Homo sapiens: one gene and its partners. The protein of the gene in region 3 interacts with the protein of the main gene of each other region in a pairwise test. Each region holds a gene or a part of one and is shown on either strand. Other genes may lie near its edges.

What was found. The genes of interacting proteins can lie anywhere in the genome.
Region 1: the proteins of ZNF341 (region 3) and ZDHHC17 interact in a two-hybrid assay, tested with the Homo sapiens proteins (one large-scale study listed by BioGRID and IntAct).
Region 2: the proteins of ZNF341 (region 3) and CCT7 interact in binary tests that used the Homo sapiens proteins (3 or more experiments, as listed by UniProt).

Annotation. Positions count from the first base shown.
Region 1 is NC_000012.12:76,770,615-76,774,114, reverse strand, and holds part of ZDHHC17 (palmitoyltransferase ZDHHC17), read right to left. Parts: intron 1-3,500. UniProt on the Homo sapiens protein: Palmitoyltransferase that catalyzes the addition of palmitate onto various protein substrates and is involved in a variety of cellular processes.
Region 2 is NC_000002.12:73,237,308-73,240,807, reverse strand, and holds part of CCT7 (T-complex protein 1 subunit eta), read right to left. Parts: intron 1,166-3,500; coding exon 1,012-1,165; intron 372-1,011; coding exon 265-371; intron 1-264. UniProt on the Homo sapiens protein: Component of the chaperonin-containing T-complex (TRiC), a molecular chaperone complex that assists the folding of actin, tubulin and other proteins upon ATP hydrolysis.
Region 3 is NC_000020.11:33,787,496-33,790,995, reverse strand, and holds part of ZNF341 (zinc finger protein 341), read right to left. Parts: exon of another isoform or gene 3,219-3,500; intron 2,134-3,218; coding exon 2,022-2,133; intron 1,479-2,021; coding exon 1,408-1,478; intron 9-1,407; coding exon 1-8. UniProt on the Homo sapiens protein: Transcriptional activator of STAT3 involved in the regulation of immune homeostasis. Also able to activate STAT1 transcription.

The DNA.
Region 1 (3,500 bases), on a different chromosome or scaffold from region 3:
CCACACCCAGCTAATTCTTTTATTTTTTTGTAGAGACAGGGATCCCACTGCTTCCCAGGCTGGTCTGGAATTGCTAGGCTCAAGCGATCCTCCCACCTCAGCCTCCCAAAGTGCTGGGATTTACAGGCACAAGCCACCGCACTCAGCCAGAAGTATATTTTACCTTATTAATGTATACTAAGCAAAAGAATAGACTGAATAAAAGAAAATTTCAAAGAGAAGGACTTTTATGGAAATGTAGTTTTATTATTTCAAGTAAAAAGGTTACTAAAAGAAGTGGCCTTAGAGCAACTGCTAAAAATGAATCCTCCCCTAGTTCCTTTAGTAACAAGGAAGAACTGATAGTTAACTCTAATAAAGTTTTTCTACTATATTGTAAAAAATAAGTAAAAAATAAATTGTATTTTGACCTATTCATGTATACAGCAAAGTACATATAAGGATTATGGGCTTGGGAGTCAGAGTTTAGGTTCTAATATAAACTATGCCAACTTTCTAATGATGTGAACCTGAGTAAACTACTTCACCTCTCTTGAATCTGTTTCCTAATCTGTAAACAGCTCAACATATACACTTTGCAGAACTACTGTGAAAAGTAAATGAACAAAACTTGGAAGCAATAAGACGTCCTTCAGTGGGTGAATGGATTTGATACACCCAGAAAATAAAATATTATTCAGCACTAAAAAGAAACGAGCTATGAAGCCATGAAAAGACATGGAGGAACTTTAAATGAATATTACTAAGTCAAAGAAGCCAATCCAAAAGGCAACATACTGCATGATTCCAACTATAAGATACTCTGGAAAAAACAAAACTAAAGAGACAGTAAAAAAAATCAGGGATTGGTGGGAAGGACATATGAACAGGCAGAACAAAGATTTTTAAGGCCATGGAACTATTCTACATGACAACATAATGGCGGACACACATTACTCTTACAAGTGTTAAGAACCTCGCCGGGTGCAGTGGCTGACACCTGTAAGCCCAGTACTTTGAGACGTCGAGGCAGACAGATCACCTGAGGTCAGGAGTTCAAGACCAGCCTGGCCAACATGGTGAAATCCCGTCTCTACTAAAAATACAAAAAATGAGCAGGGCGTGGTGGCACGTGCTTGTAGAGGTACTCGGGAGGGAGGCTGAGGCAGGAGAATTGCTTGAACCCAGGAGGCGAAGTTGCAGTGAGCCAAGAATCACGCCATTGCACTCCAGCCTGGGCAACAAGAGCAAAACTCCATCCCTCTCCCAAAGAAACAAAAACAAGCGTTAAGGCCGGGCGCGGTGGCTCACGCCTGTAATCCCAGCACTTTGGGAGGCCGAGGCGGGTGGATCACGAGGTCAGGAGATTGAGACCATCCTGGGTAACATAGTGAAACCCTGTCTCTACTAAAAAAAAAAAAAAAAATACAAAAGTTAGCTGGGCATGGTGGCACGTGCTTGTAATCCCAGCTACTCAGGAGGCTGAGGCAGAAGAACTGCTTGAACCTGGGAGGCAGAGGTTGTAGTGAGCTGAGATTGTATCACTGCACTCCAGCCTGGCGACAAAGCTAGACTCCGTCTCAAAAAAAAAAAAAAAAAACAAGTGTTAAGAACCATAGAATACACAACACGAAGAGTGAGCCCTAATGTAAACTATGGCCTTTGGGTGATAATGATGCATCAATGTAGGTTCATCTACCATAACAAGTGTACCACGCTAGTGTAGAATGTCCATACTGAGGGAGGTTATGCATGTGTACAGGCAGGGAGCATATGGGAACTCTTCGTACTTTCTGCTCAATTTTGCTACCAATATAAAACTGCTCTTAAAAAATTAAGTCTGTTCAAAAAATTCAAAAACAAAACACAAATGAGACCATTTGTAACCACAGCTAGCTAGTGCCTAGCAAATCCAACTCTATCATCTCTATCATACTGTATTGTGCTATAAAAACAGGCAACCTGGATTACTACTTAACCTCTCTATACCTCTGTTTCCTCATTTGTAAAATAGGTATAAAAAGCTGTGAGGATTAAATGAATGAATATACATGCAAAATTGTTTAGGATAGTGCCTAGCTCATACTTATAATTTGCTGGCATCTATGTCCCGGCTACATGGAAGAAAGAAGCTGGTCTGCATTTGGAGAAAATGAAGCTGAAAGGGAGAGAGGAGGAGAGATAAGAGAGTTTTGGTGGCATTCTCAGCTCAGGTTCCAGTTGTGTTTGATTTCAACTGCATCCTTGCATCCTGAGTTTAGGTTATCTGAGACAGTAAATTCCCCTTTTTGCCCAACTATGTTTCAGACAAGATTGTTGACATCTGCAACAAGAGGATCCTTACACAACAAGAAACTTCTGTCTTCAACTCAAAGAACTTTTTTTTTTTTCATGAGAATAGGGATAGTTTTGGTAACCACCAGTTTTGTTCATACCTCATTAAATCCTTCAAAAATTAATGAGTATTCATAATTGAAAAATTATTCTTAAAAACTAAACAAGGGTAGGGTATACTAACATCTCAATCAGAAGTAATTTTTCACTTCATTTTTTTCTAGAATACAACAACTGATAAAAATGCAAGCCATCTGACATATATACACAAAAAATGTCTCAGGTACTGTTAATGTTATAATCTTCATATCCCTAACAGTATCACCGATAATCAGAAAGATGATCCTAGGACACTATAATGTTCTAATTTATCAAAGAAAGATTCTATTATGTTTAGTATGTATTAACCCTAGAAAATAATTTGGCAAATTTGCAACAGGAATTGAAACAAAAACAAAAAAGTATTGTTTAATTCTCTGTAACTCAGGATACTAAGTTCACAGTATCTCATTCACAGAAGGCTGAAGTTTCACTGTACTTTCAAATTAGCTGCCTGTGGCTCCACTTTAAGAAAATTTTAAAAGAAGATATTTTATCCTAGGTCTAAATAATTATTCCACTGGGTCAAATTTTATGTATTTTATAAATATAATATTGTCTTGAATCATTATTTTTCAAATTCCAAAATTAAAATATTTGATTTTACTCTTAAATTATCCATCTGTAATAAAATCTATTCATAAAATAATACTATAATCAGATAATGCGCTGAAAGAGAATTTTACATAACCTTAATAGTGAAACATCTTTTCGGATTATGTAATTGTTGTGGGTTCTGTTAAAAGCAAACTGCATTTTTTTTTTTTTTTTTTTTTGAGATGGAGTTTTGCTCATTGCCCAGGCAGGATGGCACGATCTTAGCTCACAACCTCTGCCTCCCAGGTTCAAGCGATTCTCCTGCCTCAGCCTCCCGAGTAGCTGGGATTACAGGCATGCACCCCCATGCCCGGCTAATTTTTTATTTTTAGTAGAGACGGGGTTTCTCCATGTTGGTCAGGCTGGTCTCGAACTCCCGACCTCAGGAGATCTGCCAGCCTCAGCCTCCCAAAGTGCCGCAATTACAGGCGTAAGCCACCAAGCCCGGCCAGCACACTGCATTTTAAGACACCTTAACTGTTCAATGCTGA
Region 2 (3,500 bases), on a different chromosome or scaffold from region 3:
AGCACACAACCTGTTAAGATCTCAGGCAGTAGACTTATATCTAAAGACTGTTGTCATTCACCAATGTATTAATGGATATGAAAAGCTACATGTAACGAAATAGTATGAATTTTAAAAGGCTGTTAATTCTAAATACTTTTATAAGCATGTATTACTTGTACAATTATAATTATATAAAATCTTAAAAAAATTTAATAGAGGAGAACTAAGGAGCAAGCAAGCATGTGTTTCAACCTCCATTTAAACACACAACTATTTTCCTACCTCAGCATCTTGGGATTTGGCAATGTCTACCAAAGTCTTTGCTGCAGGATGGACAACATCAAGAAGTTTCAGAATTGTGGCCCCATCATTAGAAATTGTTGCTTTGCCTTAAAAGAAACAAACAAAAATCTAAAGCCCCTTTCTTAAATGCTGTCTTCAAGTGGGACCTAGAACCCATCTACACTTTACTGGGATGGGGCAGAGGGGATCACGGCAGGGCTGAAGGGAAAGGATACCTATCTGATCTTTCTATACAGAATTAGCTCTGTACACAAAGGGTCTAAAATCACAAGCTTTTGCAGACCACAGACTCCCAATTTTCCTTGAAGAGCAATTAATACAGGTCAACTGGATACAGAAAAGATTTTTTAAATAAAAGTAACCACTTAGATATTCTTACCACAGTTGATACCCTCACACATCAATTAATATACCAAGATATAAACAGGAATTTTCTCATCTTGATAACAATGGAAGTGAACACAGGAAACTCCAGATGGTTCTATTTCATGTTTCTAGGCCACGTCTCCCTATGAGGCAACAGGCTCCTGAGCCTAGGTTCTCTCATATAGTCCCACACGGGCTCAGCAGTCAGGACAATATAAGAATTGGAACTGCTTCAGAGTGAGTCATCTTTCAACGATCTTAAAAGCAGTGGGATTTCTGATACCAACCTATGCTAGTCCCAAACACCCCCTCAGGAGCCTCCTTTCCTGCACACAGGCCTGAGGAACTCTGTAGACTTACCTCTGCCATCTACAATAAGCTTGTCCATGCCACGGGGACCCAGGGTAGTTCTTACAGCCTCAGCAATCACCTGGCAGGCACTGATGTTACTCACAAGCTGGGGGATGCCTTGGGAGCTATCAGTCCCCTCTTTCAATAGGATAACTGGTGTGGGCTAGAAAAGAAAGAAATTAACTGCTTTTAATAATCATCTATTATAATGAGACTGGCAGGGGAAAGGGGAAAATGCTCCCATCTCTCCCTTAACAGAATTATCTAGAGGTCTTCTTAAACCACATTCCCCCAACTGTCTACCACATCCATTCCCCAACCAGCCTCTACCTCCAGAGACACTATCAAATTTAGCCTACCCTGCAGGTATGCTAGACAGGAAAATGGTTTGAGAAGCACTGACCTAATCTAAAAGAAAAAATCATGAGTTCTCCAGTACCCAGCTGAATGACCATGGCCTTTTCAACTTCTGACCTTACTCCCTGTGCTGAGGAATTGGGTCACAACACAGGAGGAAGAGGCAGACCCTGCTAAGTGTTCATTCCGCAGCAAAACATCCACTTGTCTGTGTTACAGCTCAATCTTAGAGAAGCAGATGGGACACTGATGCAAAATGCAAGATGCCAAGAGCTTGAGGTGTTGTCCTAGAGATGCCTAGGCAGTCAGCTTTATGTAACAGTGATGTTCAGCTGCAGTGTAGGAAAACAGGCAGAGAAACAAACAGCACCTTTGCCCTGTTTTGAAAAATGATGGCAAATCTAATTCATACAGCAATGTTTCCATCTCTCATGCTGGCTGAATAAAGCTTCTGTGTGACTAATTTCCAATCAGATACCCCAAAGAAGTTTTCCTCTTTCTATATTGCATTGGTCTCCAGAACATTCCCTATCCCCGTAAGGGCTTCATTTGCAGACCTGCTTTAGAAACTGAGAAACAGGGATACTTGCTTGTTTTAAAGGGCCCGCTCAGATATCTTTGCTCTAGTGACCACCATTATTAGCAGAGAGAGCAATTTCTCAGCTTAGCAAACCAGACTACTTTCTCTCCACATTCAAATCTGAGCCTTCAGAGATAAGCCCACGAACTAGATCCAGTCTTCTCAAGTGTTTCTGGCTAATTTTGTGTGTGACACAGAATGTAGTAAGGATAAATACTATTTCAAAACTTTTATTGTGTTAAATTTGTTACTAGGCTATGATTAAAAATGTATTTCTTACTGTGGAATGCAATAAAAAGTTTGAAAGCCATCACCTAGTCCTTAGAGGTACGTGGATGTCTGAGCAAGGAAGGCACAGGAAAGCACAGAGCTTTCCCAACCTAACAATGAGGAGTGAGGAATTCCTGCCAAAGACAGAGTCTTGCCACTCATGAGGCTGATTCCTTATTAACTGGTCAATTCCTTAAAAAGTTCAACTCTTTTGGCCAGCGCAGCTGGAGGGTAGTAAGCAAGAGGAAGACTGGAATAAAGCTGAAGAGGCAGGCAGGAACCAGATCACATACACACTCGTAGACACACTATGGTGAGGAGTTCAGATTTCATTCCTAAAAAGGAAAGCCCTGGGAAGCTTTCAGCAGAGGAATGGCATACTGTGATTTACATAAAAAACAAAAACCACTGTAGAAAAAAGAGGATCACTTGAGCTCATGGAGTTCAAGACCAGCCTGGGGAACATGGCAAGACCCTGTCTCTACAAAAAGAAAACGAAAAATACCCAATAAACTCTACGGAATAAGAGAGTGGGAGTAATTTAATATATTATTCATTTTTTAATATATATTTCTAAGAGACAGGGTCTTGCTCCACCACCCATGCTGGAGTGCAGTGGTGAGATCATAGCTTACTATAAGCTCAAGCCTCCTGAGTAGCTGGACCGCAATGCATGAGGTACCACACCTGGCTAATTTTTTAAATTTGTATTTAAAAAATGTTGCCCAGGCTGGTCTCCAACTCCTGGCCTCTAACAACCCTCCTGCCTCAGCCTTCTGAAGTGCTAGGATTACAGGCATGAGGCACCATGCCAGGCCCTCATTAAATTTTTTTAAATGCTTGTCAAATAATCATACATTACTCCTTTTATTTTTTATTTTAAAAAGAATGCTTGTCATGTAAACCCCTACATTTGGGATCAGGCGTCAACTGAAGGGAAAATTCCTTCCTTTTGCTGGAGTGTCCCAGGTCTGGTGGCAAGAAATGGCTTCTCTATACTCCCAGCATTCTTTCTGGCTCTTCAGCTGGCCCAGTCCCTGGCACCTTCTGTAAGGGAAAGATGTGTGTCCTGAAAGGCCCTACCATCTCCCAGTCTTGCTAAATCATTCCTTATGGCAGCCCCAAGTCTTCTCTGGTCCACCCCTGCCACGGATGGAGTCTTACACTTTAAATCAAAAACTAACATGAGTCTCAATCACTTCCTATCACCTTCAACAGGTTCTTTCACCTCAACAGGTTAACTTACCCAATGCTTGTGTATACTTTTTCTCACCTCAACCTGCAAAGTGTA
Region 3 (3,500 bases):
CTTCATGCCTGGAGGGCAAGGGAAAGTCAGTGAGAAGCATCCAGACCTTCACCCCGCAACAGTGCCCTGCGCTGGGAATAAAATCCAGGCTCTTTCCCCACCAGCACCTGTGTGATCTGGCCCCAGCTCTCTCCACCCTCGTCGTCTGCCTTCTTCCAGCCACTCTCTGCGCCAGCCACACTCGCTCTCCTCAGAGATGCCACGCTGGCTCCTCCCTCTGCGCCTTTGTACTTGCCATTCTCCTCTGCCTGGAACAGCTGCTCACTCTCTGCACCTTGGCTCGCTTTGCCAGGTCATCTCAGGCTCAGGGAGGGGCCGTGACGCCTGAGGCCACCCACAGGAACATGGCAGCACTAAGACTCCAACCCAGCCCTGTGTGTCCAAGTCATTGACCTACTCTCCCAGTTTTCACACTTTCTTTAGTGACTGACTCCTTTCTGTAAACCTTCTCAAACAAGGGAGACTTTACCCCCCAGAGGACTCAGCAATGCCTAGAGACATTTTTGGTTGTCACAACTGTGGGGGGATGCCACTGACACCAGTAGATAGAAGCCAGGGATACTGCTAAAAATCCTACAGGGCACAGGACAGCCCCCAGGACAAAATTATCTACAGGATTACAGGCCAGGCGCCGGTGGCTCACACCTGTAATCCCAGCACCTTGGGAGGCCAAGGCGGGCAGATCACTTGAGGTCAGGAGTTCGACACCAGCCTAGCCAACATGGTGAAAACCCCATGTCTACTAAAAATACAAAAATTAGCTGGGTGTGGTGGCAGGCACCTGTAATCCCAACTACTTGGGAAGCTGAGGCAAGAGAATCGCTTGAACCTGGGAGGCAGAGGTTGCAATGAGCCAAGATCACACCACTGCACTCCACCTGGGTGACAGAGGGAGGCTCCGTCTCAAAAAAAAAAAAAAAAAATTATCTGGCCCAAATTGTCAATGGTGCCAGGGTTGAAGAACCTTGTTTTAGACCTCGGCTGGCATGTGGAAAGCCAGCCAGGCTGCTCTGAGGAGGCGCTGAGAAACTGAGGAGTGGCTTGGAGACCCCTGCCCTGCCCTATCAAAGAAGCTTCCTGGCCATGTCTTGGACCTGGCTGGAATCTGATTCCCTCCACACCTCGTCCACACCTCTATTACACTGGGCACTGCTCCAACTGAGTCATCTCTGCTCAGGTCAGCTTCCTCCTTGGACTGGGGGACTGTGTCTGATTCATCTCTGTTCACCCTTAAGTCCCTAACACAGGCCTGGCTCATAGCCCACATAAGTGAAAGTGCTGGCTGGAATGTGCCAGGCAGGGAAAACAAGCCTCACAGGATATGTCTGCTCTTTCTCTTCCTGGCGGGTCTATCCCAGTGAACTAGAGCTGAACCAGACCCTCTTAGCAGGCCCAAGAGCCACTTACCAGAGTGGGAGAGGATGTGGGCCTTCAGCTTGTCCGGCCGGTTGAACTCCTTACTGCAGCCTGTGTGCGTCCTAAAACCCAAAGCCACTGGTCAGGGGGAGCTCACCAAGCTTAGGATCCTCTTGCTGGCCCCTCCACTAGCCCTGGGCACAAGGGACAGCCTTGTCCACCCTAAGGGCTGGGCAAGGAGGTAGGGTGGGAAGTGAGGCAGGCAGGGCCCAGGACAGGATAAAAGGAGAGAGGCCTGGCCAGGCACAGTGGCTCACGCCTGTAATCTCAGCACTTTGGGAGGCCGAGGTGGATGGATCACTTGCGGTCAGGAGCTCGAGACCAGCCTAGGCAACATGGCGAAACTCCATCTCTACTAAATCTGTAATCTCAGCTACTTGGGAAGCCGAGGCAAGAGAATCGCTTGAACCCAGAAGGCAGAGGTTGCAGTGAGACAAGATCTTACCACTGCACTCCAGCCTGGATGACAGAGTGAGACTATGTCTCCAAAAAAAAAAAAAAGGAGAGGCCTGCCCTCAGGCCTGACATCTGTCCCACCCTCCCCAGCAGCACCCCTGGAGAATCTGTCCCGCTACCCACCCCCCTGCATGGCAGTCTCTACTCACGAGAAAGGGCATTTGTATTTCTTGAAGGGCTCGTGGATCAACATGTGTCTCTTCAGTTTGTCCTTGCGGTTGAACGCAGACTCGCACACTGAGCATTTGTAGGGCTTCTCACCTGCAGCAGACACAGACAGGGAGAGCCAGCACTCACCAGGAGTCGGCATCCAGGGCACAAGGGTCCCCGCTGGGCCCCTCAGGGGAGCAGCTCCTCTAGGGAGGTGGCCAGGGGAGAAAATAGCCTCTCTCATTCTTCAGTGGCTTTGTTTTGCCAGAGACAAGACAGGGCTATTTTGACAGGATGGTCAGGAGAGGCCTCTCTGATGAGGCCATGCATGAGGAGAGACCTCAGGTCATCAGGGAGATGGTCTGGGCAGCAGGGAAAGCAGGTACAAAGGCCCTGAGGCAGGAGTGCGTTTGGCGGTGCTGATGAACAACAGGGAGGCTGGTGTGGCCAGAGAACAAGGCAGAAGGTGAGGGCAGCGAGCCAGCCAGGTCCGCATGGGAGGACCTGGGAGGCAGAGCTAAGGACTTGGCTTTTATTTATTTATTTTTTTTGAGACAGAGCCTTGCTCTGTCACCCAGGCTGGAGTGCAGTGGCAAGATTTCAGGTGAGTCACTGCAACCTCTGCCTTCTGGGTTCAAGCAATCCTCCTACCTCAGCCTCCTGAGTAGATGGGATTACAGGTGTGTGCCACCACGCCCAGCTAATTTTTGTATTTTTAGTAGAGATGGGGGGTTTCACCATGTTGGCCAGGCTGGTCTCGAACTCCTGACCTCAAGTGATCCACCTGCCTTGGCCTCCCAAAGTGCTGGGATTACAGGCATGAGCCACCGCGCCCAGCCAGGACTTTGGCTTTTACTCTGAGCCAGAAGAGAAGCACCAGAAGGTCTGAACAGCAGAGGGATGGACTCTGATGTAAGCTTTTAACCAGCTCGAATGAGGGTGGAGGTGAGGATAACCAGGAAGTGGCCCAGGACAGCCATGTTGGGAAGGCACAGTCGGCAGCCCTTGCCACTGGACTGGCTGTGACTGTGAGAGGAGGAGAGGAGTCAAGGATGAGGCACGGCCTGAGAAGCAAGGTGGCCTCATGTCATTTCTGGCAATGCGGTCCACCCTGGGGGACGAGGAATCACACCTTATCTAACTGAATCCTTCCAAAAAACCAGGAGGCACTGACTCCCATCATCCCTGTTTCACAGATAAGAAAGAAGACTGAAGTTCAGAGAGGTGAAGGGACTGGCTCAGGGGCTACCCCTATGGTTGCGGGAGCTAAGATTCCAGCCCAGCAGCGTGATCCAGAGCCCATCTGAGCTACCCAGATCTTCCTGCTGTTAAACCCGTCCTGGGGCAGCTCTTGCCTGATGGGCTACCTGAGGAACCCACAGGAAATCAAGGGAGGTGCCTGCAAAGTTGCCGTGGGGTCACAGCCTGCCCTTTGGAAGGGGCTGTTTCTGGGCTGCTGTGACTTCCTGCCATTATTT